Linked DNA regions of Homo sapiens: all the other regions are reported to be linked to region 1. The links are microRNA targets in miRTarBase. Many come from high-throughput screens and were not tested one by one. Region 1 holds a microRNA gene; each other region holds the end of a gene's coding sequence.
What was found. Region 1 holds the annotated microRNA hsa-miR-4649-3p (UCUGAGGCCUGCCUCUCCCCA, at 4,953-4,973, shown strand). A microRNA usually pairs through its seed, bases 2 to 8, with sites in the 3' UTR of a target mRNA and lowers its output. Matches are read on the target gene's strand: a 7mer-m8 pairs with bases 2 to 8, a 7mer-A1 pairs with bases 2 to 7 and ends in A, and an 8mer does both.

Region 2: miRTarBase lists CMSS1 as a target of hsa-miR-4649-3p. Seed matches in the 3' UTR shown: 7mer-m8 at 1,845-1,851 and 7mer-m8 at 3,833-3,839.
Region 3: the mRNA of C7 is a reported target of hsa-miR-4649-3p. Seed matches in the 3' UTR shown: 7mer-m8 at 1,310-1,316, 8mer at 2,896-2,903 and 7mer-A1 at 2,992-2,998.
Region 4: miRTarBase lists UTP11 as a target of hsa-miR-4649-3p. Seed matches in the 3' UTR shown: 7mer-m8 at 5,910-5,916.

Annotation. Positions count from the first base shown.
Region 1 is chr7:44,105,939-44,113,518 of GRCh38, forward strand. MIR4649 (microRNA 4649) reads left to right here and starts at 4,911; the gene lies at 4,911-4,974. It overlaps AEBP1 (AE binding protein 1), which reads left to right. Exons shown (of 21, transcript NM_001129.5): 2 at 608-949; 3 at 1,501-1,572; 4 at 1,691-1,762; 5 at 1,871-1,993; 6 at 2,069-2,146; 7 at 2,961-3,038; 8 at 3,169-3,246; 9 at 3,350-3,403; 10 at 4,077-4,186; 11 at 4,269-4,408; 12 at 4,787-4,871; 13 at 4,975-5,119; 14 at 5,216-5,301; 15 at 5,569-5,692; 5 more.
Region 2 is chr3:100,177,114-100,184,693 of GRCh38, forward strand. CMSS1 (cms1 ribosomal small subunit homolog) reads left to right here. Exons shown (of 10, transcript NM_032359.4): 10 at 1,192-4,619. The coding sequence ends at 1,275. Among named protein-coding and RNA genes, the nearest start is that of FILIP1L, 66 kb to the left of the region's middle.
Region 3 is chr5:40,980,947-40,988,526 of GRCh38, forward strand. It overlaps C7 (complement C7), which reads left to right. Exons shown (of 18, transcript NM_000587.4): 18 at 446-3,697. The coding sequence ends at 627. Among named protein-coding and RNA genes, the nearest start is that of C7, 75 kb to the left of the region's middle.
Region 4 is chr1:38,022,851-38,030,430 of GRCh38, reverse strand. It overlaps UTP11 (UTP11 small subunit processome component), which reads right to left. Exons shown (of 8, transcript NM_016037.4): 8 at 5,611-6,886. The coding sequence ends at 6,803. Among named protein-coding and RNA genes, the nearest start is that of UTP11, 14 kb to the right of the region's middle. RefSeq lists enhancers at 476-555, 1,689-1,738, 2,558-3,109, 3,110-3,662, 3,829-4,328.

The sequences.
Region 1 (7,580 bases):
CTTTTCTGTCCTCTGTGTGATCCCTGAACCCCCCAGGACTCCCTATCCTTCCAATCAATTCCAAACCCCTTACTTCTCGAAAGGAGACCACTTCCTCTTCTTTGGGCTTCAATACTCAACCAAGTGTCCCTTTTCTTTGAAGCTTTTCTTGCCCCGTAGGAGACCAGGGGAAGGTCTTGGGCCCATGTCCCTTCCTTTGTATGGCAGTTGGCAGGGATGACCAGATGCTCCTCCAGGCCTGGATGGCTCAGTCACCTCTCTGCCCCTTCTGTGCCCAGAACAGAATAGTGGAGGAGTGGATAGTAAGGAACCCCTATTGAGGTTTTGGCAGGTGGGGGGATGAGGGCCTCCCCCTGGGAACTGGGAACCCTACGCTCAGTCTTTAGAGAGGTTGAGATTGGTGGTCACAGCCCCAGACTTGCAGACAGAAAATCTGGGTCCGGATCCCAGTTTGCCACTTGGGCAAATGACTTAACCTCTCAGTTTGCTGATCCGCACTGGGAACTGACAAGAGTCCCTGTGCCCAGGTTCTGGGCATCTAGAGAGGGGCCTCATGGGGGCACAGAGCTGGCTCTGTTCATTTGACACGAGTCTGCATCTTGGACAGTGCCTCCGGAAAAGACCAAAGACAAAGGGAAGAAAGGCAAGAAAGACAAAGGCCCCAAGGTGCCCAAGGAGTCCTTGGAGGGGTCCCCCAGGCCGCCCAAGAAGGGGAAGGAGAAGCCACCCAAGGCCACCAAGAAGCCCAAGGAGAAGCCACCTAAGGCCACCAAGAAGCCCAAGGAGAAGCCACCCAAGGCCACCAAGAAGCCCAAAGAGAAGCCACCCAAGGCCACCAAGAAGCCCCCGTCAGGGAAGAGGCCCCCCATTCTGGCTCCCTCAGAAACCCTGGAGTGGCCACTGCCCCCACCCCCCAGCCCTGGCCCCGAGGAGCTACCCCAGGAGGGAGGTTTGTGCCGGGCTCCTCTGGGGTGATGGGGCTCTGACTGCCTGCTCGGGTGGAGGCAGGGAGTGGGAGGCAGGTTTCTGGGGCCCTGCTTCCTATAGACCTTCAGCTCCCCACTGGATGGGAACCTCACTTTTGCTATAAATTTCACAATTTGATTGGTGGGCTCCCTCAGTGCTGTAGCCTCTTTTGGGTAGGGAGAGGGCTTGGCAGCCTTTTGGGTGGGACCTCTGTCCCTCAGGCCCCTGCCCAGATGTCCCTGGGCTCTGAGCCCATGGAGTTCCCTCCTGCCTTCTCCCGCTGGGGACAGCTTTGTGGTAGGGCCTCCAGCAGCACAGTAGGTTCCCCAGAAGGTGGGCCCAGCTCTCTGGCCCCATGAGATGCCAGCAGGATGCTGAAGGCCAGAGGAGCTCAGGCCTCCTTGGAGTGAGCTCGGCCTCAGGAGGGTGTCCACAGGCTCTGTGTGGGCTCTATGGGTGGCTGGTGGCCTGAGGCTCCCAAGGTGGTCAGAGCAGGCCTCCCGCCCACCTGCTTCTGGAACTCCTGTGTTGCAGGGGCGCCCCTCTCAAATAACTGGCAGAATCCAGGAGAGGAGACCCATGTGGAGGCACGGGAGCACCAGCCTGGTGAGTGGCCGTCATCCGCCTGGCCTTGGGGCCAGCTGCCCTGGCTGGTTGGACTGAGGGCTTCCCCAGAGTAGGCCTGGGTGGGGTTGTCAGGCAGCTACCAGCGCTTTCCCCTCAGAGCCGGAGGAGGAGACCGAGCAACCCACACTGGACTACAATGACCAGATCGAGAGGGAGGACTATGAGGACTGTGAGTAGGGTCCTGCCAGCCCCACCTGGGTCGGACCCCTGGCCTGGGGGATGTGCCAATGGGCCCATCCCAGCCTTGGGCCCCACTCTGAGCCAGCCTCCCCCTCAGTTGAGTACATTCGGCGCCAGAAGCAACCCAGGCCACCCCCAAGCAGAAGGAGGAGGCCCGAGCGGGTCTGGCCAGAGCCCCCTGAGGAGAAGGCCCCGGCCCCAGCCCCGGAGGAGAGGATTGGTAGGATGGGGGGCAGGAGAGGAGGTGCCATGGCCACGGCGCTCTGGCCCCCTCCTAACCTCCCCGCCTCCCCAGAGCCTCCTGTGAAGCCTCTGCTGCCCCCGCTGCCCCCTGACTATGGTGATGGTTACGTGATCCCCAACTACGATGACAGTGAGTACCCAGCACCCCAGAGTCTGAGGGACATAGGCAGGTGGGGGTCGGGGCTGGGGTGTGGTCAGGAGCCAGCTGGGGCAACTCACCCACCTTGCAACCCCACCTGTGCCCGTGGTTACCTCGCTGTCCCTGCTGTCCCTGCGTGCCCACCCCAGCCACTGCCCTGTCTCCTCTGCCCTCAGGCTGGTCTTTCCTTGGCCGCTTCCCTGGTTCCTGCTTGGCTGTGACCCCCACAGGGGTGTCCCTAGGCACACACTCTGCCCTGTCACCCATGTGGGTTCCAGCCCTCCCAGTCCTGTGCTCTAACTGGCTTCCCGCTGGCTCGTGGCCACTGCCCCACTCTCTTCAGGGAGCCCGAGGGCTTTTGCCTCCCTGTTGCTCATGCCCCTGCGTCCCTGGAGCCCTCAGGTTCCCTTTCCTCCTGGGTGGCAGCCCGTGCATCGCCATTTCCCTGCCCCCAGGTCCCCATCAGTGCCTCCAATGTCTCCCCATCTCACCCCCCAGCCCGCAACCCCAGGCACAGGTGCCAGTTGTCCCTCCAGGCCTTTCCCATGCCCTGGGCCTCGAGTCCTTTCCCCAGGCCAGATGCTCCTGGAAGGCCGGGCTGGTGACTTCAGCAGGGTCTTGCTCAGCTGCCCCTGAGCTCGGGCTGCTCCTGACTCCTGCAAGACCCTCTCCCAACTCAGCTGTCCCCCATCTCCCGTCCTCCTCCCCTCTGGCGCGGTCCTGTCCTGCTGAGCTCCTGTGGACCCAGGAGCTGAGGCCCCGCAGCAGGGTCAGGGCAGCCTCAGCTGGCTCTCCCTCCCCATAGTGGACTATTACTTTGGGCCTCCTCCGCCCCAGAAGCCCGATGCTGAGCGCCAGACAGACGAAGAGAAGGAGGAGCTGAGTGAGTGGGACCAAGGACTTCCCACACCAGGCCTGCCCTGAAGGCCACCTGGGGCCTGCCTGATCCACCCCACATGGTCCTCAAAGCCCAGAGCCAGGCTGACTGGCCCCTCCTACCTTGCACCTTCCAGAGAAACCCAAAAAGGAGGACAGCAGCCCCAAGGAGGAGACCGACAAGTGGGCAGTGGAGAAGGGCAAGGACCACAAAGGTGTGTGGCTGGGGCTTGGGGCCTGGGTCCCTGTGGGGCAGCATCTGGACTCCTGATTGCCTCCCGGGCCCTTGGTGCCATGTCCTCCCTTCATTGTCCCTAGAGCCCCGAAAGGGCGAGGAGTTGGAGGAGGAGTGGACGCCTACGGAGAAAGTCAGTAAGTGGGGGGCACAAGGGGGTGAGGGTGGGGGCCACAGGATGGGGGTGCTGGGACAAGTGACTGGCCCAATGTCACAAACAGGACCCAGGTCCCCGGAACCCTTTCCTACTCAGATTCTTGGGACCCAGAAGGGAGGGGCCCCGGGAGCCCAGGATAGCCTCGCTTGGCTGCCCCAGCCCTGGACCCCAGGCTGGCCTGCTTCAGGAGGGTGGCAGCTCCCCAGGGCCCCTAGTGGCTGGGCGTGGTAGGGGGAGGACCTGGGGCCTTGGTGGGGAGTGAGGACCTCAGGTACCTTCACAGGTATCCCTGCAGGGCCATTGTGCAGACGGTCCCCATCTGGATGACATCTGTGGCTGCGCCCTGGGGGAGCTCTACCTGTGATTTCACGTGTGTCCCCTGAGAGCTGGGCATGGTCAGCCCGTTCTCCAGATGGGGCAGCTGAGGCCCAGGGAGGGGAAGCACAGGCTGGGATTGGAAACAGCTCCTGGCCTGGCTTTGAGTCGATTCCAGGTGGGCTGGTGCAGGGCACCAGGGAGCCACCAGCTGACCAGAGCTGCCCTCTGACTGTGCCCCCGATGTGCCGGGAGTGGGCTCTGGGCTCCTTGGTTCTGGGTTTGGTGGAGGGAAGGATGGAGCTAGTGAGCCACCATTCTGGGGTACGCGTCCTCAGAGTGTCCCCCCATTGGGATGGAGTCACACCGTATTGAGGACAACCAGATCCGAGCCTCCTCCATGCTGCGCCACGGCCTGGGGGCACAGCGCGGCCGGCTCAACATGCAGGTGGGCATTGGGATGGGCCCATCTCCCAACTGGGATAAGGGACTCCTCCGCCCATGCTCAGCCTCCCCTGCCCCCTGGACAGACCGGTGCCACTGAGGACGACTACTATGATGGTGCGTGGTGTGCCGAGGACGATGCCAGGACCCAGTGGATAGAGGTGGACACCAGGAGGACTACCCGGTTCACAGGCGTCATCACCCAGGGCAGAGACTCCAGCATCCAGTGCGTGGCCAGGCTCATGGATAGTTGGCAGAGGGGAGTGGCTACATAGGCATGGCTCTGTGTCCCATTAAGGAGATTCCAGTGGGCCCTTCTTTGGCCCAGCCAAAGAAGGCCAAAAAGATCAGTGAGGGACTCACCCTGCCCATCCCCACTCCTCAGCCTGGTCAGTCAGCCCCTGTGTCCTGATAGCACATGAGTTTAGGGACAGATCACCTGCCCATGGCTATGTGACGGGCATAGGACCCAGGCTCAACACCTGGGCCGTGCAGCACCACCCTGCTAGCTCTTAAATTCTTGGGGCTCGGAAGAGGGAGGCTCAGGCCACCTGAGGGCCTGGGAGGGGGAAGACCCTTGCTCTGACCACTGTCCACTCCACAGTGACGATTTTGTGACCACCTTCTTCGTGGGCTTCAGCAATGACAGCCAGACATGGGTGATGTACACCAACGGCTATGAGGAAATGGTGGGCACCATGCCCAGGCTCTTGGCTCTGCTCCCATTGTCTGGGCGAGGGGTGGGCTCTCAGAGGGGCTGGCAGTACTGCTCTGAGGCCTGCCTCTCCCCAGACCTTTCATGGGAACGTGGACAAGGACACACCCGTGCTGAGTGAGCTCCCAGAGCCGGTGGTGGCTCGTTTCATCCGCATCTACCCACTCACCTGGAATGGCAGCCTGTGCATGCGCCTGGAGGTGCTGGGGTGCTCTGTGGCCCGTGAGTGTGGAGGGCTGGCAGGGGCTCTGAGTGGAGGTGGGGTGCTAGGGTGGGCCAGCCGGCACCCAGCTAAAGACAACCCCGCCTCCCTTGCAGCTGTCTACAGCTACTACGCACAGAATGAGGTGGTGGCCACCGATGACCTGGATTTCCGGCACCACAGCTACAAGGACATGCGCCAGGTTGGGAGCATATATCCTGGGGCTGGGGGTGGGACCTGTCTGTGGCTGACGGGAGTGTGTGCCTGGTGCTTCTGTCACTGGGCCCAGTCCCTACTGGTTCCAGGGATGCTGGCTGTCCCTCACCTTAGGAAGGAGGCCAGTACCTGGGGGCTGCGTGAAGGGGTCATGCCCGTCCCTCGCCATAGAGCAGGCCCTGGAAGTGGAAGGGGCATGGTCAGCGGGGGACGGATTGCATGATTGATTCCACGTCCTCCCCCTCTGCCCCAGCTCATGAAGGTGGTGAACGAGGAGTGCCCCACCATCACCCGCACTTACAGCCTGGGCAAGAGCTCACGAGGCCTCAAGATCTATGCCATGGAGATCTCAGACAACCCTGGGGAGCATGAACTGGGTGAGGGTCTGTGGGGGCCAGCAGCTGGCCTCTGCTGCTGATGTGCAGAGCTCACTGCCTCCCGCCTGTTCCGGAGCCTCTCTGGGGATTCTGGCTTGTCTTACAGGGCCCTAGGAGCCCCAGCTGTCCCCCAGACCCTCGGGTATGAGGTGGGTCTGGGTCCTTCCTCAGCTGCCCTGGGCCTCGGGAGACTGAGTGCTCACTGAGGCTCCCGCCCTTGCAGGGGAGCCCGAGTTCCGCTACACTGCTGGGATCCATGGCAACGAGGTGCTGGGCCGAGAGCTGTTGCTGCTGCTCATGCAGTACCTGTGCCGAGAGTACCGCGATGGGAACCCACGTGTGCGCAGCCTGGTGCAGGACACACGCATCCACCTGGTGCCCTCACTGAACCCTGATGGCTACGAGGTGGCAGCGCAGATGGTGGGTTGAAGGGTGAGGCTGGCCAGGGTCCAGGCAGCTGGGGGTTGTGGGGGTGTGGGTAGCCGATGCCTACCCTGCTGGCTCCCCACAGGGCTCAGAGTTTGGGAACTGGGCGCTGGGACTGTGGACTGAGGAGGGCTTTGACATCTTTGAAGATTTCCCGGATCTCAACTCTGTGCTCTGGGGAGCTGAGGAGAGGAAATGGGTCCCCTACCGGGTCCCCAACAATAACTTGCCCATCCCTGAACGCTACCTTTCGCCAGATGCCACGGTGAGGCTACAGCCTGGCTGAAAGGGCAGGAGGGAGCAGCTGGACCCTGGGGTCCTGGTGTTCTGGGCTTGGGGGTGGGGCTGACGGTGCCTGAACTCCAGACGCTGAGGCTCTGGGGGTTGGGGGACAGGGGATCGTGCGAGTACTGGTGTGAAGCTTCATGGAGGGTGATCGGGCTAGGTTGGGGATAGTGGCCGGAGCTGCAGCCCTGGCCTCACACGTGCTGGCCACTCCAGGTATCCACGGAGGTCCGGGCCATCATTGCCTGGATGGAGAAGAACCCCTTCGTGCTGGGAGCAAATCTGAACGGCGGCGAGCGGCTAGTATCCTACCCCTACGATATGGCCCGCACGCCTACCCAGGAGCAGCTGCTGGCCGCAGCCATGGCAGCAGCCCGGGGGGAGGATGAGGACGAGGTCTCCGAGGCCCAGGAGACTCCAGACCACGCCATCTTCCGGTGGCTTGCCATCTCCTTCGCCTCCGCACACCTCACCTTGACCGAGCCCTACCGCGGAGGCTGCCAAGCCCAGGACTACACCGGCGGCATGGGCATCGTCAACGGGGCCAAGTGGAACCCCCGGACCGGGAGTGAGTCAGCCTGGGAGGGGCTGTGGGCGGGGCCTGGTCCGGAGAGGGGCTGACTTTGGGTCTGTATCTGTCCCCGGCCAGCTATCAATGACTTCAGTTACCTGCATACCAACTGCCTGGAGCTCTCCTTCTACCTGGGCTGTGACAAGTTCCCTCATGAGAGTGAGCTGCCCCGCGAGTGGGAGAACAACAAGGAGGCGCTGCTCACCTTCATGGAGCAGGTGGGGTGGCTAGGGCAATGCCTGGGGAGAGGAGGCTGCACAGGCTCCTGGATGGGCGGGAGGGAGCAGCGGACCACATTGGACCTTCCTGAGGACCAGCAGCCCTCACCTGCTTCCCTAGGTGCACCGCGGCATTAAGGGGGTGGTGACGGACGAGCAAGGCATCCCCATTGCCAACGCCACCATCTCTGTGAGTGGCATTAATCACGGCGTGAAGACAGGTACCTAGTGTGCACACCTTTACCCCATCTTTCTGAGGGAGGACCCGCCAGAGAGGGTGGGGGCTTGAGGAACTCAGCGAGCAGGTAGAGTCTGGGGAGCCTGGGGGCGAAATTCAGAGAGGGAGGGCGGTGCTGGGGGCGGGAACTCAGAGGGGGAGGGCGGGGCT
Region 2 (7,580 bases), not on the chromosome of region 1:
GGCAGTAACTATCAAAGAGGCTTGGAAATACTCTTCCAAACATGCTGAATGAATTAATTTATCACATAAAGCTATATCTCCAGATTGACCAAACCTGATTATAATTGATCAGTGAGTTATTTCAGACATCAGTTCAGGTTAAAAAACAATTTGCTCAGTTACACACACGCACATGCACACACACATACACAGTCGTGCATTTTGTCCCCTGACTTGACTGGTTTCTTAAAACTGGTTTAACAAATTTGATATCAGGCATGAGGCCATAGTTGATTATTTCAGTTATAATATTAAATTTGACTAATCTACTAAGTTTCTAATTCTAATAATGAGAAATGTCCAAAAACATCTTGTCACCCATAGTTATTTTTATTCTGTTGCTGTCATTCTCAGCAGTTATCCTAAGGCAATAAAATCCTATACTGAACTATTGTATATAATCTTGTTTACAGAAAGCACACTGTGGAGTCCTTGAAACACCTTTGTATAGCATTTTATTTTGAATGGCTGCAAACAAAAGGGCACTTTAATGAAACTAATGTTTTATATAGTACCTCCTCCTTCATTTATATAAATATTTTAATTCTGCCAGGCATGGCAGTGCACACCTGTAATCCTAGTGCTTTGGGAGGCCAAGGTGGGAGGATTACTTGAAGCCAGGAGTTCGAGACCCGCCTGGACAACAAAGCAAGACCCTGTCTCTACAAAACAATAATAATAATAGGCCAGGCACAGTGACTCACACCAGTAATCCCAGCACTTTGAGAGGCCAAGGCAGGTGGATCACTTGAGGCCAAGAGTTCAAGACCAGACTGGCCAACATGGCAAAACCCTGTCTCTACTAAAAATACAAAAATTAGCCAGGTATCATGGCACACACCTCTAATCCTAGCTACTCAGAAGGCTGAAGCATGAGAATCACTTGAACCTGGGAAGCAGAGATAGCAGTTAGCCGAGATCACGCCACTGCACTCCAGCATGGGCAACAGAATGGGACTCTGTCTCAAAATAATAATAATAATAATTTTAAAAATTTCAACTCTGAATCAAATGTGTGTTAGGACTTTTGCACTCTCTGATTCTGGCCATAACAGCTGGGTAAATATCAGGGAGTCCTGATGGTTGAATGTATTCACCAAGACCATTTTGGCTTGATCTTAATCTTTTTTTCCCCCCTTTTCTCTCATTTAGATAAGAAAGGAGGTATTCGAACTTCTGGAAATGGGAGTGCTCAGTCTGTGCAAGTCAGAATCCTTGAAACTGGGCCTTTTCTAAGTCTGTGTCCTAATGAAGATTCCAGTTTTCACAGTAGAAGTTGCATCTTATTTAATGACTCTGATACATTGCAAGCACTCAGTAAATATCAGCAAATAGTTTATGTTAATTGTGTCAACAGATGGATCACTGGAATGTGGGGATTCTGAAACAGAAATGAAACTGTCCTTTTGACAACTCTCTTATATAATAAAGTATCACCGGCTTGTGTATGATCCTTGTTGAGCGGACCGTGTTTTTCTGTCACCAACTGGCTTCTGATGTAACTGTGCAGGAGAAAGGAAAGAGCAGCTGGGTGACCTTAGGCAAGCGTAAGGTCTTGCCTCTCTGAGCCCCATCTTATCAACTCAAAGTGGGAATGTCTCACAGCATTGTTGAGGATTCCAGGAGATAGTACATGGGGAGCAGATTTGTAAACTCTGAGGCATGGTCCCAGCAAAAAGGGTGGCAGGTATATTAATCCATTCTCACATTGCTATAAAGAACTACCCGAGACTGGGTAGATTATAAAGAAAAGAGGTTTAATTGACTCACAGTTTCACAGGCTGTACAGGAGGCATGGCTGAGAGGCCTCAGGAAACTTGGCAGAAGGTGAAGGGGAAGCAAGCACATCTTCACATGGCGACAAGAGAGCAAGAGAGTGAAGGGAGAAATGCCACACACTTTTAAACGACTAGATCTTGTGAGAACTCACTCCCTATCATGAGAACAGCAGAACAGCAAGGGGAAAATCTGTCCCTATGATCCAGTCACCTTCCACCAGGTCCCTCCCCCAACATTGGGAATTATAATTCAACATAAGATTCGGGTGGAGACACAGAGCCAAACCATGTCAATTCCACCCCGGCCTCTTCCAAATTTCATGTTCTTCTCACATTTCAAAACACAATCATGCCTTCTCAACAGTCCCCCAAAGTCTTAACTCATTCCAGCATTAACTGAAAAGTCCAACTCCAAAGTCTGATCTGAGACAAGGCAACTTCCTTCCACCTATGAGCCTGTAAAATAAAAAACAAGTTAGTCATTTCCAAGATACAATGGAGGTACAGGCATTGGGTAAATGCTCCCATTCCAAGTGGGAGAAACTGGCCCAAAGGAGCTAAAGGCCTCATGCCAGTTTGAAACCCAGCAGGGCACTCTTTGAATCTTAAAGCTCCAAAATAATCTTTGACTCCATGTCTCACATCCAGGCCACTCTGATGCAAGGAGTGGGCTCCCAAGGCCTTAGGCAGCTCTGCCCCTGTGGCTCTGCAGGGTACAGTCCCCATGGTTGCTTTCACAGGCTGGTGTTGAGTGCCTACAGCATATCCAGGTACACAGTGTAAGCTGTCAGTGGATCTACCATTCTGGGGTCTGGAGGATGATGGCTCTCTTCTCACAGCTCCACTAGGCAGTGCCCCAGTGGGGACTCTGTGTAGGGTCTCCAACCCCACATTTCCCCTCTGCACTGCCCTAGTAGAGGCTCTCCATGAGGGCTTCACCCCTGTAGCAGACTTCTGCCTGGACATCCAGGCGTTTCCATACATCCTCTGAAATTGAGGCAGAGGCTCCCAAACCTCAGCTCTTGCCTTCTGCACACCCATAAGCCCAACAGCACGTGGAAGCTGCCAAGGCTTGGGGCTTGCACCCTCTGAAGCAATGGTTCAGCTGTACCTTGGCCCCTTTTAGTCACAGCTGGAGCTGGGGCAGCTGGGAATTAGGCTGCCATGTCCTAAGGCTGCACAGAGCAGCTGGGCCCAGGGCCTAGCCCACGAAACCATTTTTTTCCTCCTAGGCCTCTGGGCCTGTTTGGTGGGGCTGGGGAGGGCTGCCACGAAGGTCTCTGAAGTGCCCTGGAGGCATTTTATCCATTGTTTTGGCTATTAACATTTGGCTCCTCTTGTGCAAACTTCTGCAGTGAGCTTGAATTTCTCCCCAGAAAATGGCTTTTCTTTTCTACCACATGGTCAGGCTGCAAATTTTCAAGCTTTTATACTCTGCTTTGCTTTTAAATATAAGTTATCTCTGCTTATGCAAATGAGCATAGGCTTTTAGAAGCAACCAGGCCACCTCTTGAACACTTTGCTGCTTAGAAATTTCTGCCGGATACCCTAAGTCATCTCTCCCAAGTTCAAAGTTACACAGATCCCTAAAGCAGGGGCACAATGCCACCAGTCTCTGCTAAAGCATAGCAAGAGTGACCTTTGCTCCAGTTCCTGATAAGTTCCTCATCTCCATTTGAGACCACCTCAGCCTGGACTTCATTGTCCATATCACTATCAGCATTTTGGTCAAAACTGTTCAACAAGTCTCTAGGAGGTTCCAAACATCCCTCATATTCCTGTCTTCTTCTGATCCTTCCAAACTGTTGCAACTTCTCCCCGTTACCCAGTTTCAAAGTTGCTTCCACATTTTTTAGGTATCTTTATAGAAATGTCCCACTTCTCTGGTACCAATTTTTTGTATTCTTCCATTTTTACACTGCTATGAAGAACTACCTGAGACTGGGTAGTTTATAATGAAAAGAGGTTTAATTGACTTCCAGTTCCACAGACTGTACAGGAGGATGGCTGGGGAGGCCTCAGGAAATTTACAATCATGGCAGAAGATGAAAGGGATGCAACCACATCTTGTGGCAACAAGAGAGCAAGAGAGTGAAGGGGGAAGTGCTATACACTTTTAAACAATCAGATCTCTTGAGAACTCACTATCATGAGAACAGCAAGGGGGAAATCTGCCCCCATGATCTAATCACCTCCCACCAGATCCCTCCCCCAACACTGGGAATTACAATTCGACATGAAACTTGGGTGGGGACACAGCCAAACCACATCAGCAGGGTAGTGGTAGAAAGAGCATCAAGTGAATTTGGCCCTTTGTAAACGTATAAAAAGACAACAATATAATTACAGCTGTCTTATTAACTTTTTTTTAAAAACTTTCTATTTTGAAACTTCAGGCTTAATAGAAAAGTTTAAAAAATAGAGAATTCCCATATCCCCTTCCCTGAGCTTTCCCTGTGTTAAATTCTTGTATAACCATAATAGAGTTATCAAAACTAAGAAGTCATCACTGGTACTGTATAATTAACTAAACTACAGAGTTTATTTGGATTTCTCCAATTTTTCCACTAATGTCCTTGTTCTATTCCAGGATTCACTGCAGGATCCCACATTGCACTTACTTAGTTGTTGTATCTTTTTGGTTTCTTCAGACCAGTGACAGTTCCTCAGTATTTCCCTGTCTTTCATGACCTTCACACTTTTGAACAGTATCCATCGTGTATTTTGTAGAATGTCCTTCAATTTGGATTTGTCTGTAATGTTCTCATGATTTGATTAAAGTTATGCATTTTTTGACCAGAATACCACAGAAGTGAGTATGTCCTTCTGGATTTATTATATCAGGGGTACATAATGTTAATATGTCTTATTACCAGTGATGTCAACCTTGATCACCTGGCTAAGGTGGTATCTGCCAGTTTTTTCTATAAAGTTATTATTTTCCCTTTGTAATTAATATCTATTTTAGGGGCAGTACTTTGAGGCTATACAAATATCTGTTTTTCCTCAAACTTTTGCCTGCTAATTCTAGCAAATATTGGTAGTTCTTGCCTGCGACAGCCATTACTGTAATGGTTTTTCTATTTTTCTCATTCCTTCAACATGTGTTACATTTATTACAGAATTCCTCTTTAAGAAAGAATTATCTCCTTTCCCCCATTTCCTTGTTTGTTCAATTATTTATTTACATCAGTATGGACTCATTGATACTTATTTTATTCTATGAGTTATAAGGTAATAGTATTGTTTTTTATTTTTTTGCTCAAATTCACTTTTCTTACTCATTTAAATAATGTTGATTGGTTACCCACTCTGTGCCAAGCACTGTGTTTACAACTTTCATTTATATATAAGCTGTCATGTTTAATCACTGAAATAGTCCCAAAAGAAAAAGTAAGTCACATTGTATAGACAATGAAACTAAATCTGAGAAGGGACATACACTAGTTTAAGTAGCAGAACCAGAAGTCAGACCCAGGTCTCCCATATCCACTTCAAGACACCCAACTTATCTGGAGACTCAAGCATATACAGCAAACGAGATAGGAAAGCAAACAGATGCCATTACTGATATATAAAATTCTACATTCCAATTTTGTGAAATTGTAAATGAGCCTAACAGGCTAGCAAGTCAAAATCCAGGAAATCACACAGGCCTGCACACCAGCACCTTGTTGTTCATGCACCTTGCACCTCTGTGGCCTGAAATCCACACACAGGAACTCAGAGGAAAGAGGAGTAGGTTCCATTCTCCAGGATTCCCACTAGAGTCCAGTAAGTTAAAAGAAAAAAAACCACCACAGAATGAACATTAAGCTATCGCTAAACTTAACCCTATCACTTTCATCCCTTTAACCCTAACAGGTGAGATATTCTTGGCCAATGGTAAGAAAGAAAATGGACCACATACCTTCTCAATAGAGGCATTTAACTTCCTGTCAAGTGACGTCTTAGATTAATGTGGAAAAAAAGCCATCAAGTATGATTGTATCAGAGGAGAGACTTGCAAATTAAGACACTGTGGTCTGTGCTGTCAGAATTCAGACCAATCTGCCAAGCGGCTATTAATTCGCCAAAATATGAGACTATCATGAATATTACATGTGTATATTCATATAATGTATATTTAATATATATTTTTATATTTAGCATATATATTTTCATCCCAGCAGTTAATAGGAAAGACAACGAAATATAAGGCAACCCCAAATATACAAATGTCTGCTAATGCCTGAGAAGGTTATCTACAGTGGTTAAGGAAAAATGAAGACAAGTTAGAAATCACTTTAAAATTTTTCTTTTTTTCCTTTTTTTTTTTTTAAAGATGGGATATTGCTCTGTCTCCCAGGCTGAAGTGCAGTGGTGCCATCATAGCTCACTGCAGCCTCAAACTCCTGGGCTCAAGTGATCCTCCCACCTCAGTCTCCCAAAGTGCTGGGATTACAGGCATGAGCCACTGCACCTAGACTTTGAAATTTCTAGTGATGCCACAATACAACAGCTGTTAACAAATTGTTGTATTGGTATCAATCTAGAACAGTGATTCTCAAACATGGGTAATAGAGGCCGGGGATGCAACTAAACATTTTACAATCTTACAGGACAGCCCTCACAACAAAGAAATATCTAGCCCAAGATGTCAGTAGTGCTGAGAAAAAGAACCCTGTTCTGGAAATATTGAAAGGCAATGCATATGAGGTATATTTGCACATTGAAAGTAGATTTATTTAGAAGAGAGGAATAGATGAATATAAAAGTACCTGGAGAATGTATATCTAGCTGTCTCTCAAGAATATTGTCCCAGAAATATTTGTACTTACTACCTGTGATGGCTAATTTTAATGTGGCAACTTGGCTAGGCCGTAGGATACCCAGATAGTTGGTTAAACATTATTCTGGGTGTTCTGTGATGGTATATTTGCATGAGATTAACATTTAAATGGGTAGACCTGAGCAAAGAGGATTGCCCTTCATAATGTGAGAGGGCCTTGTCCTGTCAGTTGAAGGCCTCAATAGAACAAAAGACTGACTCTCCCCAACCCCCCAAGAGAATTCTGCCTGACTGCCTCCTAACTGAAACATTGGCTCTTCCTGATTCTGTGGCAGCCTGTTGGCCTTCAGACTTGAATTGGGACATCAGCTTTGCAGATTTTGGGCTTTTCAGCCCCATAATCATGTGAGCCAATTCCTTATAATATATATATATATGGTCATATAATCTCCTGTTGGTTCTGTTTCTCTGGTGAACCCTGAGTAATACACTATCTGTGAAGCTCCTTTTAGTCTGGGATTTGAGTTAGTTGGTTTTGTTGTTTTATAAACAGTCTAAGAAATACTATTCTCATTGGTTTTTTGCTGTAATTACCCTCTTGCTAGGCATTATCTATGTAATATAATGCCATCCAATCCAATGTTGGAATAAGTATTTGAATCACAAACATACCCCAATGTTGTGTAGGTCAACCCTGTTCTTATAATCTAATCTCATAGCCTTTTACTGCCTTTTAAACCCAAGCTCTTGACCATGTTTTATTTAGTAAAACAAATGGTAAATGTTAACTAGAAGTGTTCACTGCCATCTCCTCACACAAGGCTGTTTGATACCAACAACCGTACTAGTTGCCACCTCCAAATTAGATTCAAATGTCATGCTGAAAATTTCCCGTTGGTATTTTGCTTTTTATACAGTTTGTAAATGGAAAGCTTTAACTCCGAATTGGAAACTTCCTAGTGTAAGCATTTGCATCAATTTTGTATTCTTTC
Region 3 (7,580 bases), not on the chromosome of region 1:
TCTGGTTTGTTTTTTGGGATTTGTAGCCTTTTGCATGCCATGCTCTCTCTCAAAGCAAGTTAAGTTCTCTTTTTTTCTCTCTCTCTTTGTTTGAGTCTTGACTTGGTTCTTTGTTGAGGGCTTCTCATTTGACCTCAGTTGCTGGCTTATATGGACAGCAGCATGTATGTAGGAGATAGTTGAAGAGCTCTTGACTTGGATAAAACCACCCCATGTGGTCTAACCAATATAAAGCCTGCTACCAACCTCAAAACCTATTTCTTTGGAGTGGAGCAAAATGCCCCAATTTCCTGGTCCTACTGCTTTTCCAGGGGATAATTTATTATGTCATTCCAGGCAGGAGCTTCTACAGCTCTGATCACCACATTATTACTTTGGAGGTGATGTTCTTTGACTCCCCGACCTCCACAATGTACCATTAAGCCTCTTTCACTTACTTTTCCAGCTGAGAGCAGCAAATGTGTCTGCCGAGAAGCATCGGAGTGCGAGGAAGAAGGGTTTAGCATTTGTGTGGAAGTGAACGGCAAGGAGCAGACGATGTCTGAGTGTGAGGCGGGCGCTCTGAGATGCAGAGGGCAGAGCATCTCTGTCACCAGCATAAGGCCTTGTGCTGCGGAAACCCAGTAGGCTCCTGGAGGCCCTGGTCAGCTTGCTTGGAATCCAGCAGGCAGCTGGGGCTGAGTGAAAACATCTGCACAACTGGGCACTGGACAGCTTTTCCTTCTTCTCCAGTGTCTACCTTCCTCCTCAACTCCCAGCCATCTGTATAAACACAATCCTTTGTTCTCCCAAATCTGAATCGAATTACTCTTTTGCCTCCTTTTTAATGTCAGTAAGGATATGAGCCTTTGCACAGGCTGGCTGCGTGTTCTTGAAATAGGTGTTACCTTCTCTGGGCCTTGGTTTTTTAAAATCTGTAAAATTAGAGGATTGCACTAGAGAAACTTGAATGCTCCATTCAGGCCTATCATTTTATTAAGTATGATTGACACAGCCCATGGGCCAGAACACACTCTACAAAATGACTAGGATAACAGAAAGAACGTGATCTCCTGATTAGAGAGGGTGGTTTTCCTCAATGGAACCAAATATAAAGAGGACTTGAACAAAAATGACAGATACAAACTATTTCTATCCTGAGTAGTAATCTCACACTTCATCCTATAGAGTCAACCACCACAGATAGGAATTCCTTATTCTTTTTTTAATTTTTTTAAGACAGAGTCTCACTTTGTTGCCCAGGCTGGAGCGCAGTGGGGTGATCTCATCTCCCTGCAACCTCCGCCTCCTGGGTTCAAGCGATTCTTGTGCCTCAGCTTCCCAAGCAGCTGGGATTACAGGTGCCCGCCACCACGCCCAGCTAATTTTTGCATTTTTAGTAGAGATGGGGTTTCACCATGTTGGCCACGCTCGTCTCCAACTCCTGACCTCAGGTAATCCGCCTGCCTTGGCCTCCCAAAGTGCTGGGATTACAGACATGAACCACCACGCCTGGCTGGAATACTTACTCTTGTCGGGAGATTGAACCACTAAAATGTTAGAGCAGAATTCATTATGCTGTGGTCACAGGGGTGTCTTGTCTGAGAACAAATACAATTCAGTCTTCTCTTTGGGGTTTTAGTATGTGTCAAACATAGGACTGGAAGTTTGCCCCTGTTCTTTTTTCTTTTGAAAGAACATCAGTTCATGCCTGAGGCATGAGTGACTGTGCATTTGAGAATAGTTTTCCCTATTCTGTGGATACAGTCCCAGAGTTTTCAGGGAGTACACAGGTAGATTAGTTTGAAGCATTGACCTTTTATTTATTCCTTATTTCTCTTTCATCAAAACAAAACAGCAGCTGTGGGAGGAGAAATGAGAGGGCTTAAATGAAATTTAAAATAAGCTATATTATACAAATACTATCTCTGTATTGTTCTGACCCTGGTAAATATATTTCAAAACTTCAGATGACAAGGATTAGAACACTCATTAAAGATGCTATTCTTCAGAATTGTTTCATTTGTATGATGTTTCATTTTAGAGAAGATTTTCATGATGAATGGTTAATGTGTTCTTGCCTGAAGTTTTATGTCTGATCCAGATCTAGCTTTTTGTATCAAAGTGTGCCCTAAGGGAAGATGCAGATATAATATGTTGAAGTTACAAGGAGGCAGGTTTCAATTGGTTAAAAACAATGACATTCAGACATTGCAACTGCATTTGTTAGCGGTTATTACAGAGTTAATTTCTACCCTGGATGGGAGGACACATTTGAACATGCTAGGCCTGGATGCAGACCCTGAGACAAAAGGTTGAACAAGTAATTCATTTGGAAGGAAATACCTCAGTATCCTTCCAATAATTTCTCCTCTTAGCTTAAGCTAGTATGGAGTTAGATTCCTACCGCTTATGTATCACCATGCCCCCTTCCTAAATAATACAGAGGATATGGTCAGCATTATCACATATCATCAGAGATTGAGGTTTGAAAGAAAGGAAATGAGTAGATGTAACTAAGAGGTTTGAGAAAGGAATTTCAGCAGAGTTATTGAAGGAGAAGTCAAGGAGAGGAGAAGGAGAGGAGCAGTGAATGTTGTCGTGAAGAGGTGTTGTCTTGAAATACTGTATTTTTTTCCTCCTTTTCTTTTCTGAACATTCTTGTGCTGACCTTTCCTCTAGTCCAACAGAGGCATTCACAATTGCCTGTGGAGAATTAGGATTGTCGCAGCAGGTCAGCAAGGAGAAAGTCATTTTTAAGATTAAATTTTTAAAAATGTTTTGAAACTTCCAAAATAAGTTCTTGAACACCTATGGAGAGGCTTTGAGGAAAGTTAAGGGAATGATTTTATACCACAAAAATAAATGGAAAAAGAATAAAGACTGTGAGAATTCCATCTTCCTGCCCTTTCCTGTGCCTCAGATCAGGTGAGGGTCATCTGGGTTAGAAGGGGATAGAGCCTTGGAGGAGGCAGAGGGCAGAAAGCATTGCTGAGATTAGAGTCATTTGGCCCTCAGAAGGAACAGACAAAGAGAAGGAAATTGGCTGGTGCATTAATCATCACTAGCTTCAGGGAGCTATGTGGAGGCCAAGGCACATCCTACAGATCATCGCTTACCACTCATGAGGACGCTACAAGTTACCTGGGCAGAGAAGGTGCCTGAGAATATTTCCTAATCGTTTTGAGAAGTGCCTTCCTGTGACATCTTATGTATTTCCTAATTGATCAAAAGTAGTGCTGCTTCTCTAAGCCCTGAGATTTAATGAGCCCCATTCAAACTGTTATTAATGTAACCTTCTTTCCCAGTGCAGGATGACTTGTAATCACCTTGAAAGAGAAGGAGGGTTCTTCGTATTCAGGTAGGGTATGGTAGGGATGTGGAGTGCCAAGCAGGAAATCTGACAAGTGACCCCCGGAACTTTGGATTACCTAGCAACTAGCCAGGTAACTGGCTAATCTGATTGAGGGTTGCCCTCTTTGCTGGGCAGATCATGGCTAATCTCAGCTTCACATGAGTCTTGTGAACCATCTAGTTGTTTTGTAACTGCTAAGAGCTGCAAGTGCTGAGCAGCTGGTTTATACAGCATTCCCTGAAACAGCCTAGTATGTGTCCATTTATGTGCCCGGCTTATTATGTGTCCACTTATGTGTCCAATTAGTAATCACTTTTTCTTTCGGTCAAGGTATGTGTATTAATCAATATTTTTTGAACCCGTCCTGTCTCAGTCTGTTTTATGCTGTTATAACAGAATATCACCAACTGGGTAATTTATAATGAGCATAAATTTATTTGGCTGCTGGTTCTGAAGGCTGGGAAGTCCATGAGCATGGTGCTGGCATCTGGCAGGGCCTTCATGCTGCATCATCCTATGGCAAAACGTGGAAGGGCAAGAGAGAGCAAGAGGAAGCAGGGGCTGAACTCGTTTTTATAACAAAAGCACCCTCATGATAACTAACCCATTCCCGTTACAACAACACAATCCATTCATAGCAGCAGAGACCTCATGTCCTAATCACTTCTTATGAAGGCTTGCCTCCCAACACGTGCATTGGAGGTTAAGTTTCCAACACATGAACTTTGGGAAACACATGCAAACCACGGCACCATGGTTTATCATTATTCTGTATTTTCTTTATGTTCCTATTCACATTTCTTATACACACATACTCACCCACCACAGGCATTTGGATTATTTGGAGATAATACACACATACTCACACATAATACACACAAACTTACTCACTTATACACACATACTCACCCACCACAGGCATTTGGATTATTTTCACAGCATAATAGCTAGTGGAAGTGGTCATCATCATAAACTTGAAGAAAACTTAAGATATTGCATACTTTGGGCACAAGATGAAGTGGGTATTCAGGGGTATCCAATACTTCTCTTTCTCTTCTCTGAAGTAGAGCGGATAGACAAAGAAGAGAAGAGAAAAGAAAAGGGGAGGCAGGAGAGATAGAAAGAGAGAGATAAATTGGGCCATTCTTAGTATGGGATTGGCAGAACTGAGTAGCCATACCAGTCCACTGAGATTTTTCTTCCTTGATGGACTAGTTAAAGCGTACTCAATACTTGTGTTAGAAACAGAATGGCTTGTTTCTTTCTCAGAACACTAAGCCAGAAAAGCGACATCAGTAGGAGGCAATTTCCATTAATGTCTGAGAAAACAGGTTTATGCCTGCCTTTCAATTACCTTGGACTTTCAGGCCATTCACACATTTGTGGACGAGAAAGCTGATGCCATGATAGGAGCCCCTGCTGTGACAACCAAAGCACCTACAATTTGTCTTTTTATTTATTCCTGTCAGGCTGTGAAGGCAAAGCTCTAGATTTACATTCAAGATATCAATCACATAGAAAAATTTGCTTCCTCAGCCAGGGGTTAACAAGACCAGATGGAAAGACTGCCGTTGTTTGAAAGGGGTGGGCTGGAGGTGAGAAGGTGGGCAAGAGAAGAAAACATGAAAATGTTCTTTTCAATTCATAGGCTGAGGACAATTTCCTGTGAAAAGACAAACATAGGAACTGCTCTGTTATCACTGTTATTTCCATGCATCTCTATGAGAGGAGACTTGCACTGAATTCCAGGGAAGGGGACTTAGTTATACGGCAGATCAATGATGTCCAAGACAGAGAAACATTGACTGAAAAACGAAGCACATGCGATGTTGGCTTGAGGGTCTATTACAAAATAATCAGCTGCCCTAGTCAACTGGGAACACAGAGAGGTCAAGGAATTTTCAGCAACAGTAAAATATAATTTTCTTATTAAAGAAAAAGTTTTGCCTGGCATCCCTAAGAGAAAATGGATTAACATGAAAGGCTTAGGATTGGTGTATCATTAGGCCATATACAACCCACGTGTGCATTATGACAGTATTTAATAAGGGGCCACAACTGAACTCTAAGTCCAGAAACTCTTTTTTGCACAGGTAGCACCAAGAGCAACTCCTGAAGTCAGGCATTATATAAAGCTGTATTCAAGCCCACTGACTGGACCCCCTTGTGACCCTATAGAATTAAGCAGCTTTGGTATGATGATAATGAGCCTTCCAAAGTATCTTGAGTCTCTTAATAATGTAATGATTGGCTGTTTAGCATGGACATGGGCACAGATTCATTAAATGTGGCAGAGAAAGGCACTTTTGAGGAAATCTGGTTCCCAAATCCCCTATAGCTTGGTGAAAATAGTGACTTATCCTCATTGCTCAGTACACTGGCTGTATATGCTCAATAAAATGTCCATTTTACAGTCACTTTCCACAGTCTCACAGCTAGTTAGCAGAAAGTCTAGTCTTAAAAAATCTCTTTATCTCCCAGAGTAGAGCTCATCCTGTTTCACTCTAGCACTGGCCCCTTTACTGTCTTGTAGACCTTGCGGATATTGTATGCTAGTCGTGTCTTGCCAGACAGCAGCATAGTTAAATGAGTCGTGTAGGGGTGGTTTCTTGCTATAGCTAGAGTGCTAGTATTATGAAATGTCAGCATAGACTTAAATAGGCAAGACATTTCTTTTGTTCCATGAGTAGTATGATCCTCCTAATTATCTTCCTTCCTTGTTTTGAATATAGATGGAGGTTTCCTGTAACCTTCCCTGTGGAGCATTGATTGAGGGTAGGGAAGTTGAAAATTGTGGTAGACAAGGAGCCAGAAGGCTTAAGGAGGAAGCTTAGCAATTACTGAGATCTAAACAATGTTGACAAATAGGCCTAAGTTTTGGAAAAGTTGATCTTGGGACTTTGGCTTATGAAGAGACTGCTAGTCCTGCTTCTAACAGTGGAGGTGACTGGAGCTAACAGTTCTTTTGGATGTATACTGGGAATTATAATCTTGCAATAAACATTCTTTCCAATTTAGATGGGAGAAAGGAGGGGACTGTCTTAGTTGGTTCAGGTCTCTATAACAGAATACCACAGACTGGGTGGCTTAAACAACATTTATTTTTCACAGTTCTGTAGGCTGGAAAGTCCAAGATGACAAATTTAGTGTCTATCAGGGGCCTGCTTCCTAGTTTGCAGATGGCCACCTTTTCTCTGTGTCCTCACATGGTGGACAAAGAGGGAGCTCTGGTCTCTTACTCTCCTTATCAGGGCACTAACATCATCAAAAGGGCCCCACCCTCATGACCTCATCTATACCTAATATCCCCCAAAGAATCTACCTCCAAATACCATTGCATTGGGAATTAAAGCTTTAACATATGAATGGGTGGGGTGACACAAATATTCAGTCTGTAGTAGAGACTGTGAACTGGTGTGATTTTTTGGGTGAAACTGTTGCTTCATTCAGTGGGTTTCTGAGGAATTTTGCTTCAAAAGCTTGCCCTTTGGCAATCCTGGCAAGTAATGCAAAGAGATCAAACTAAATTTATAAATCAGATATATTGTGTCTGCAGATGCTGGGGAGACACTTTTCTCTCATATTGAAATAGCAGTGCCTCAAAGATCTAATACAGGAGCTCAGCAACGTAGGCTGGAATTACCATCTCTTCTGAGACAGAACACTGGTCCTCAATCTTCAGATGTGTAATGCAAAGACTTGAATACCAGAAAAGAGCAATGTTAACATTTAAAGCTAAAACTTCAGTAGTGCTTATCATGTGCCAGTAAATGCTGCTAGTTGCCTAGTTCCTTGCTTCTTATGAGTGGTTGATCAGAAATATCCAATGCAGATATTTCGTTTATCTCTATTACCAGTTCATGCCATGGTGTGTAAGTGCTTTCTTTACTACTGGAAATAGAGTCATTAGCATCTTTAAACTCAGATCCAAATCAGAAAACTTGTCCTTGAAATTCTGTTTCTCTAGAACCACTCTCAGTACATAAATCTTTATTAGGGTTCTTCAGAAAAACAGAACCAGTCGGATAGATATAGATATATGATATCATATATATCCTAAAGGATATATATATATAAAATATATATTTATATAATTTATTAAGTTTTTAATATTTTCTATTTTTGTCCTCATTGTCTTGAGCATATGGAGCACATTTTTAATAGCATTACAAGTTTTAATATATTAATTCAATCAATTTTGGCATTTATGGGTCCATTTCAATTATTTTTAAAAAGTTTCTTTTGG
Region 4 (7,580 bases), not on the chromosome of region 1:
AGCACTGGGGGGCTGGGCCAGCCTGGCTGAGCTCATGACCTACACAAGCTCCAGAGCAGGAATGGGGGCAGGGGTGGCAGGCTGCTCCCACCTTCTTCCTCAGGGCCCAGCCCCCATTCCTGCCGCCTCAGAGCTCCCTCCCTGAACAACACCCATTGGCACCTAGGCGGCGTGCCCCTCCTCCCCGGTGCCCCTTCACCCACAGCACCTCCGTCTCAGCTCTCACTCTCGGTATTATTAGATGTGATTTACAGCGGAAACGCTGAGTCAGACAAACCAAGACTTCCCCAGACAGAGGCAGTGGGAGAAGACAGGAAGAGTCCAGGGCAGCTGGCCTCCCTGGGCAGGGTCCTCAAAGGGAGTGAGGAGATGGGGACAGGGGTCCCCAGCTTCCAGGATGAGTGGGAAGTTTGCCCCTCCTGTTTCTCCTTTCTGTCCCAGGCCCAGGATCTTCATCTGGGACTCCTGGATATGCAGACCCCTTTTCTGACTCCCAAGCAGCCTCTCAGCCTGTCCTGCCAGCCCCTGTCTCTTCCTTGGCAAGTTTGAGAAAACAGCCCAGGGATCCTGGAGCCTGGAAACAAGGTGGTTCTGCTGGGTCCTGTTTCCTCACAGCAAGGCCCCGGTTCAGAAGGCAGCCCCTGACTCCCAGAGATGAGAGGCAGGAAAAGTGCATGGCTGGGGTCCCAGCCCCCTACTCTACAAACAGAAACACGGGCACTGTGTGCTCCTGGGGCGTCCAAGGGCCCTAGAACCGGTGGAGAGCACACATTTCTGCTTCCACCTTGTGCGGAAGAGCACAGTGGGCAGGTCCGTCTCTGCTCCCTGGGTCTCTGACTCCCTGGCAGGGAGGAACTGGGCATTGTTGCCAAAAATAAACGTTCCCTCTCCCGCTCCCTGGCTCCCGGCTCCCGCTCATTAGGATGCGTGGCGTTTGGCTGCGGTCCCACACCTTGCAGCTCATTATAAATATGCAGTCGCTGCTGGCGCTACCCCAATCATCTCTGCAATCAGAGCTTTTAATTAGGTTAATTAAATTGTATCAAATCTCGCAGGGACGCAGTTCACTGATGCTGATGAGGCAGCCAAAACAGACCCCAGCTCCTCCGCTAATGAAGGCCGCTGCCTGCCTGAGCCATGAGGGAGCAGGAGCGCATAATAAACGGGCGCGTCCTCTGGGAGGAGCTGCTGCCCAGGCCGAGCTCTGGGGACCTGGCAGGGGGTCTAAATCAAGCAGTCCAGGCTCCAGCTGCAGCAGAGGCTCCCAGCCCAGGAGCCGGCCCCTTCACACAAGAACCAGGGCAGCTTCAGGAGCCCAGGCACTGAGAGCCTGCCACGCTTACATAGCAAACTTGAGGGGGCCCCAAAGATCCACTGACTCTGTCTGGGACTCCTCTTTACTTCTCCCCCAGAATGGCCCAATAAGGCCAGGGCTCCCTCTCCTACACACCTATATACACACACACATACACATACACACACACACACACACACACACACACACCAGCAGTTAGCCCTGTCACTGCCCCCGGATTGTCTTATTAGCCAGAGTGGCCAGGCTGAGACTAGAAAGCCCATCCTGCCACTGCCAGCCTAGTCTCCATCTGCTATGGAGACCATCTGCCCCTGGCGGGGGGCTGGGGTGGTCTACAATGCTACCAGCCAGCAAGAGGAGGGGGTGCTGCCCCCTAGGCTCCATGTGCCAGATGGACCTTCTATATTCCACCTACCACTCCACCTCAAGAACCCTCTGCCAGGGAGGGACACCTGTCCCAGACCTCCTGGGATCAAAATAGCTAGGGAGGGGAGATGGTCCCTTCCTTCCCTGGTCCCTCGCCACCCTGAGTTCACTGTCCCATGCCCTGGCAATCCATCTCTGGGCACTGGAGACCACAGGCTTCAGAGCTGCAGGGCCCTGCAAAGGTCCTCCCCTGCCTATAAGCAGGAAGGCAGGTGCTGCCACCTCCAAAGGGGCTGTCCCCAACACTCCACTCAGCCTGACTCCAACCCCTCCCCTTAACCCCTCCATCACTGGTCTCAGTGTCTCTGAGCAGATGAGGAGAGAGGATGGGGAAATTTTCAGTGCTCTCGGGACAAGTTGTTTCTGCTATAGAAGCTGGTTTTTTTGGTTTGGAAAGGTGTTTTTTCTTTTTTCCACCCAGTAATGTGAAAACATGAAACCCGAAACCAACCCCCTACATTTGTCACCTCTGAGAGAAGCCTTTGGGGTAACTGGGAGAAAGCTGTAAATGACTCAGGCTGATTCAGGGCAGGGGGGTGCTGCCCAGCTGCCTGGGGCACCACAGTTTCATTAACCCGATCTGAGCATGGCCGTCAGGTGACAGATGCAGGGAGGGGAAAGGAAGCCCTTTCCATCCTCTGCTTACCCCTAAACACAGCAGTTCCCTTGATATATTCCTCTTGCCTAGAAAAAGCTGGGTCCTTAGCTCCGTTCTGGACGAGCCTCTCCTACCACCACGCAGGAGCACAGGGCTGGACTGTGCAACCACCCCAGCCCCAAGCAGTTTGTTCCCTTTGCATTAAGCGAAGCGGACAAGATGAACAAGGAGACCTAGGTGTATGCTTCACCTAGGAGTAGACTGGACAAGACTTCCTAAATGTGATGATGATGGATCCAGGAATAGGGAGCCAGGAAATTCCTTACAGGGAGCCTGAGAAGCAGCGGAGACGTTCTTCCCTCTGGCCAGAGCAGTTGAGGAAAGAACAGGCAGAAGCATGAACTAGGCAGCCTCCTCTACACTCCAACCTCTCAGCAGTAGGCTTGGGAAGGGAAGCTCTGCCTCCCTTTGTTTTACAGCTTCTCTCTGATCCTTCCCTGCACTTTTTGCTGAGACAGACCTGTGGAGACCTGGTTGGGTACAGAGGGCGCACCCTCTGACCCGGGGAGGCAGCTGCACAAGCCCAAGAGGCCTGCCAGGTCCACTTCAAGACAGTACTTCAGGTCCGCCCCCAATTCCTCCACTCACCTGGGGCTTTGAGCCAAGACTCCCACCCACGATTCAGCCCGCCCTTCCCCAACACCCTGCACATAAGGCTCCGGGAACTGGCACGCTGGGAGAACTTGAGCGGGGAGCCCAGCACCACACACCCACTTGCCTCACTGTTTCAAGTCCCAACAGGCCCTGGCCTCACCGGCCTCCACAGGTAGGCAGAGCGAGTCTGCATCTGTTGGCTGCCTTCCCTGCTGGAGGACGTGCAGCTCTAACTGCTCAGTGCCCCACCGTCAGCAGCATGGGGGAGAGGACAGTGAGCGACAAACAGATGCTTAAAGCTGCACGGAGGGAGACCCCTCCCAGGTCTGGGTGGAACCACCCTATGGGAAACTTGGGGCTATGTGACAGAGACCTCCCTGCATGGTCCTCACTAGAAACAGGAAGGAAAAGCACCTTCCTGCCCAGTCTTCCTCCTGGGGCCACACTCATCTCAAACTCAGGGTGAGAAAATCCCATTTCTTCATGGGAGCTCTCCCCCCTAGCATTAAATTCAATAAGCAAACACATGCAAGTACTTCCTAAGTACAAGGACACTTTTGAAAGAAGACAAGTGTGCTGGGTGGGTGGACACCAAGTCCCTGAGAAGGAATCCCAGCAAAGGGGCAGCAGCTCCACCTGCTGGGCCCTTTTCCACCCTGGCACCAGGAAGCAGTTAGAAATCAGAAAAAGATTGGCTAGGAGCAGTGGCTCATGCCTGTAATCCCAGCACTTTGAGAAGCCAAGGAGAGGTGGATCGCCTGAGATCAGGAGTTCGAGACCAGCCTGGCCAACATGGCGAAACCCCGTCTCTGCGCCTGTAATTCCAGCTACTAGAGAGGCTGAGGCAAGAGAATCGCTTGAACCCAGGAGGCGGAGGTTGCTGTGAACCAAGATCGCGCCACTGCACTCCAGCCTGGGTGACAGAGCAAGACTCTGTCTCAAAGAAAAAGATGAACTTATTCAAGAATAAAGCTAGGGCTTGACACTCTCCTGCTTTGGTGGGAAGGGCCCTAGGATGCAGCAACAGACTAAGACTGAGCCAGGCTTACTGAATTCTCTGTTGGACAGACCTGAAGGGTCCACATCACCATAGAACTGCTGTTTGGAGACTTGGTTTGTACAAGAGACCTGAGCCAAACAAGTCCTGACTCAGAAAATCCCTCCAGCTCCATAGGCTGCCCACAGCCCCCTTGGCACAGCTAGAGCAGTATGCCACCAACAGCCCAAATCACCCCTAGGCCAAAAAGGGCGGCTAAGCAAACAATACTCTTCCCTCCCCAACAAGCCAAGAGTCTAGGGTCCCACTGAGTACCAAAGCGGCAAAGCCCTGGCCAATTCTCAGAATACATGGGGCTGGGGCCTGTCTTTGCTTAGTCACAGGGACAGCCAATCTCTTTGCTTAAAATCCTTGAGTCTTGGAGACAGCACTCAGTGTAACAGCAATTCAGAACACCCAGCTCCCCTTACAGCACTCCGATTACCTTCAGCCTGGAACTCACAGTACACCAAAAGGATGCACTTTCCTGCTCCATTTGGCCTGGGAGTGTGGCTCTTCAAACGTCACTGTTTGTGCTCCTGTGCCAGACGGTGTGTAGGTATGCCTGTACCTGTTTATGAGGCCTGAGTTATATGTGCCTTGTGCATCTGTGAACATGAGATTCCATGAGGCGAGCCTACCTTCATGTGGGTGTGTGGTTCGTGAGAAGGCATTTAGGTCTATTCCCTATCCTCTCCCCCACTTTCCCACCCAGCAGGGGCAAGAGACGGAGCAGCAGCATCCAGCTGTTTGACCCCAGGATCAGACTGCTGCTTAGTCTGCTCACTCCCCTGTCTAGTATCACTATGATGAGTCCCTTCCCTGGTTTGATCCTCAAGTCTCTAAAACTTTCAGCATTGACTGAGCTCAGCACCTCCCCAGAAGGGAGTGCATACACACAATGGGAAGCATTTCCTTCCTGAAGGCAAAACCTACTGGTTTCTGTTTCCTGACCCTTCTTGCTGTTTTCCAGGGCCCCTGATTTAAATTCCACTGGGTACACCCTGAGGAAACAGGCTTCTAGTCTAGGCTTGTACAGGAAGCTCACAGTCATGGGCACTTATTAAGCATTAACAATTTTCTTTTAAAGCCTTACAATCCACACATGGCTGTTCTCCCTCCTTGGTGTAAGGGCTACGCAAGCCCCCCAGAACCCCGCTCCCTGTTCTCCCATGTTTGCTCTAAGCATGTTCAGTCCTGTCCTTACTGTCCTTGGCCTATAATCCTGATATGGGCAAACAAAGGAAGGAGAGAACCAGAGAAGAGAAAGAAGCTGGCCAACACACCCAGGGGTCCATATTCCCAGAGTGAAGGTCTGCACCAAGCTATTCTAGCCTTGGAATTGTGAGTTGGCATGGAGTGCAGAGGACAGAGACACAGCCAGGCCTATACTGATTTGAGCTTCATCAATAAGGAAGAGGTGCTCCCGTAGGTTCCTTGTTCCAAGAGTTTCTATCTGCAGCTGTTAAGTAAGAGAAAAAAATTCCTCCTTGGATAATTTATGAAGCCACCTGAATAGCCAATAAAAGAAGAATGAGTGAGGGTAAAATCAGTCTATCCACTAGATAAAACACTATGCAATCATTAAAAATAATATTTATTTTAACGTTTACTCTAGCATATATTACTGTAAAAAACTTTTGTGATGTAACAAACTGGGAAAGAGCTAATGATTTAATTAAAAAGTAGGACATCGGCCGGGCGCGGTGGCTCACGCCTGTAATCCCAGCACTTTGGGAGGCCGAGGCGGGTGGATCATGAGGTCAGGAGATCGAGACCATCCTGGCTAACAAGGTGAAACCCCGTCTCTACTAAAAAAATACAAAAAAAAATTAGCCAGGCGCGGTGGCGGGCGCCTGTAGTCCCAGCTACTCGGGAGGCTGAGGCAGGAGAATGGCGTGAACCCGGGAAGCGGAGCTTGCAGTGAGCCGAGATTGCGCCACTGCAGTCCGCAGTCCGGCCTGGGCGACAGAGCGAGACTCCGTCTCAAAAAAAAAAAAAAAAAAAGTAGGACATCAAATTGTTTACTGTAACTATAAAACACAAAAACATGGACAAAAAGTGATGCCTCGTTTTACAAAATGGAGGAAATCAACTAGACTACTCACAGTAATTGTCCACCTCCACAGCTCTAGCTCCTAGCACAGTTAAGCATGCAATAAATATTTGTTATTATTGAATAAGCACTGGGATTAGGAATGAATTAATCTACTTTCCAAATCTGCTGTAATGAGATCCTATGTTTCATAACAAAAAAAATTATGGGCTGGGCATAGTGGCTCATCCCTGTAATCCCAGCCCTTTGGGAGGCCAAGGTGGGAGGATCGCTTGAGGCCACGAGTTCAAAACCAGCCTGGCCAACATGGCAAAACCTGGTCTCTACAGAAAATTTAAACATTACTCAGACATGGTGGCACATGTCTGTGGTCCCAGCTACTCAAGAGGCTGATGCAGGAAGATCACTTGAGCCCAGGAGTTCAAAGTTGCAGTGAGCCATAATCACACACTGCACTTCCAGCCTGGCAACAAAGACCCTATCTCAAAGAAAAAAAAAATTAAGTATATAAAAATAAGACTAATTTCACAATCCAAAAACAATTACAGAAGGGAGGGAGATTTAATGTTGTCCATAGAAAGACATTAAATGTCAGACTGACAATTTAGTTATGGTTACAAACCGGAAAACCATGCCATTTGGAGTAATGGAATTTGAAGTTACTAGAAAACGACAACAGATTTTTGATACAGAATGACAAGGCTTATCTATAACACGTCAACGTTTTCGACGACTCTGAAATTTATAAATAGCTGGGGAGTTCACCGTTTCTTTCTTCACCTTCACTTTCTGAGTTTTATCCTACAAAAGAGTAAAAAGGTGATCAGTAAAGAGAAGGAAATGGTTTTGTAAAATCGAAAGGTTAATAAACTACCTATTAGCACCTGCTTCAGCCCTTCTCAAAGTTGAGAACGGACACAGCCCTACTGCCCAAGGCATCCACTGTAGGCAATGAATTAACTTCTCCCCTAGGCATCTAGAAAGTACTAGCTGTGTACAGTCCTAGGAAAACTGAGAAGAAAGGTGTTCAAGTAGTTGTTTCATTTAAAATTATAATTTTAATTCTCTCACGGAACCCCAGTTGAGAAAGGCTGACCTAAATGATCTACAAAGCTAAAGAATTTGACATTTAGAGGAATGATAAGAATATGAAAGAGGCATCTTATATTCCTCAGCTCTGCTATTTAACTACACAATGTTGTCTATTTTTAAACACCAATGAGTGACATGCACTGTTTTGTTAACCTGTTTAAATGTTACGGGAGCTGCTCATAAGCTATAAAGTTCATATGCTACCCGATCCTACCCTTTGCTGTTCCAAAGCACTGACTAATAACCCCCTTATTACCTCCTTAATCAAGGCGCATTTCAACACTGTCAGAGTAACAGACACTGGCTCAAACCACTGCCCCTGAGGAGCAGACATTTTCACTGGGGTTGATTTACACACAGCTGAAATCTAGTCTGAGTTAAGACCTTTACAAGAAAGAAAAGG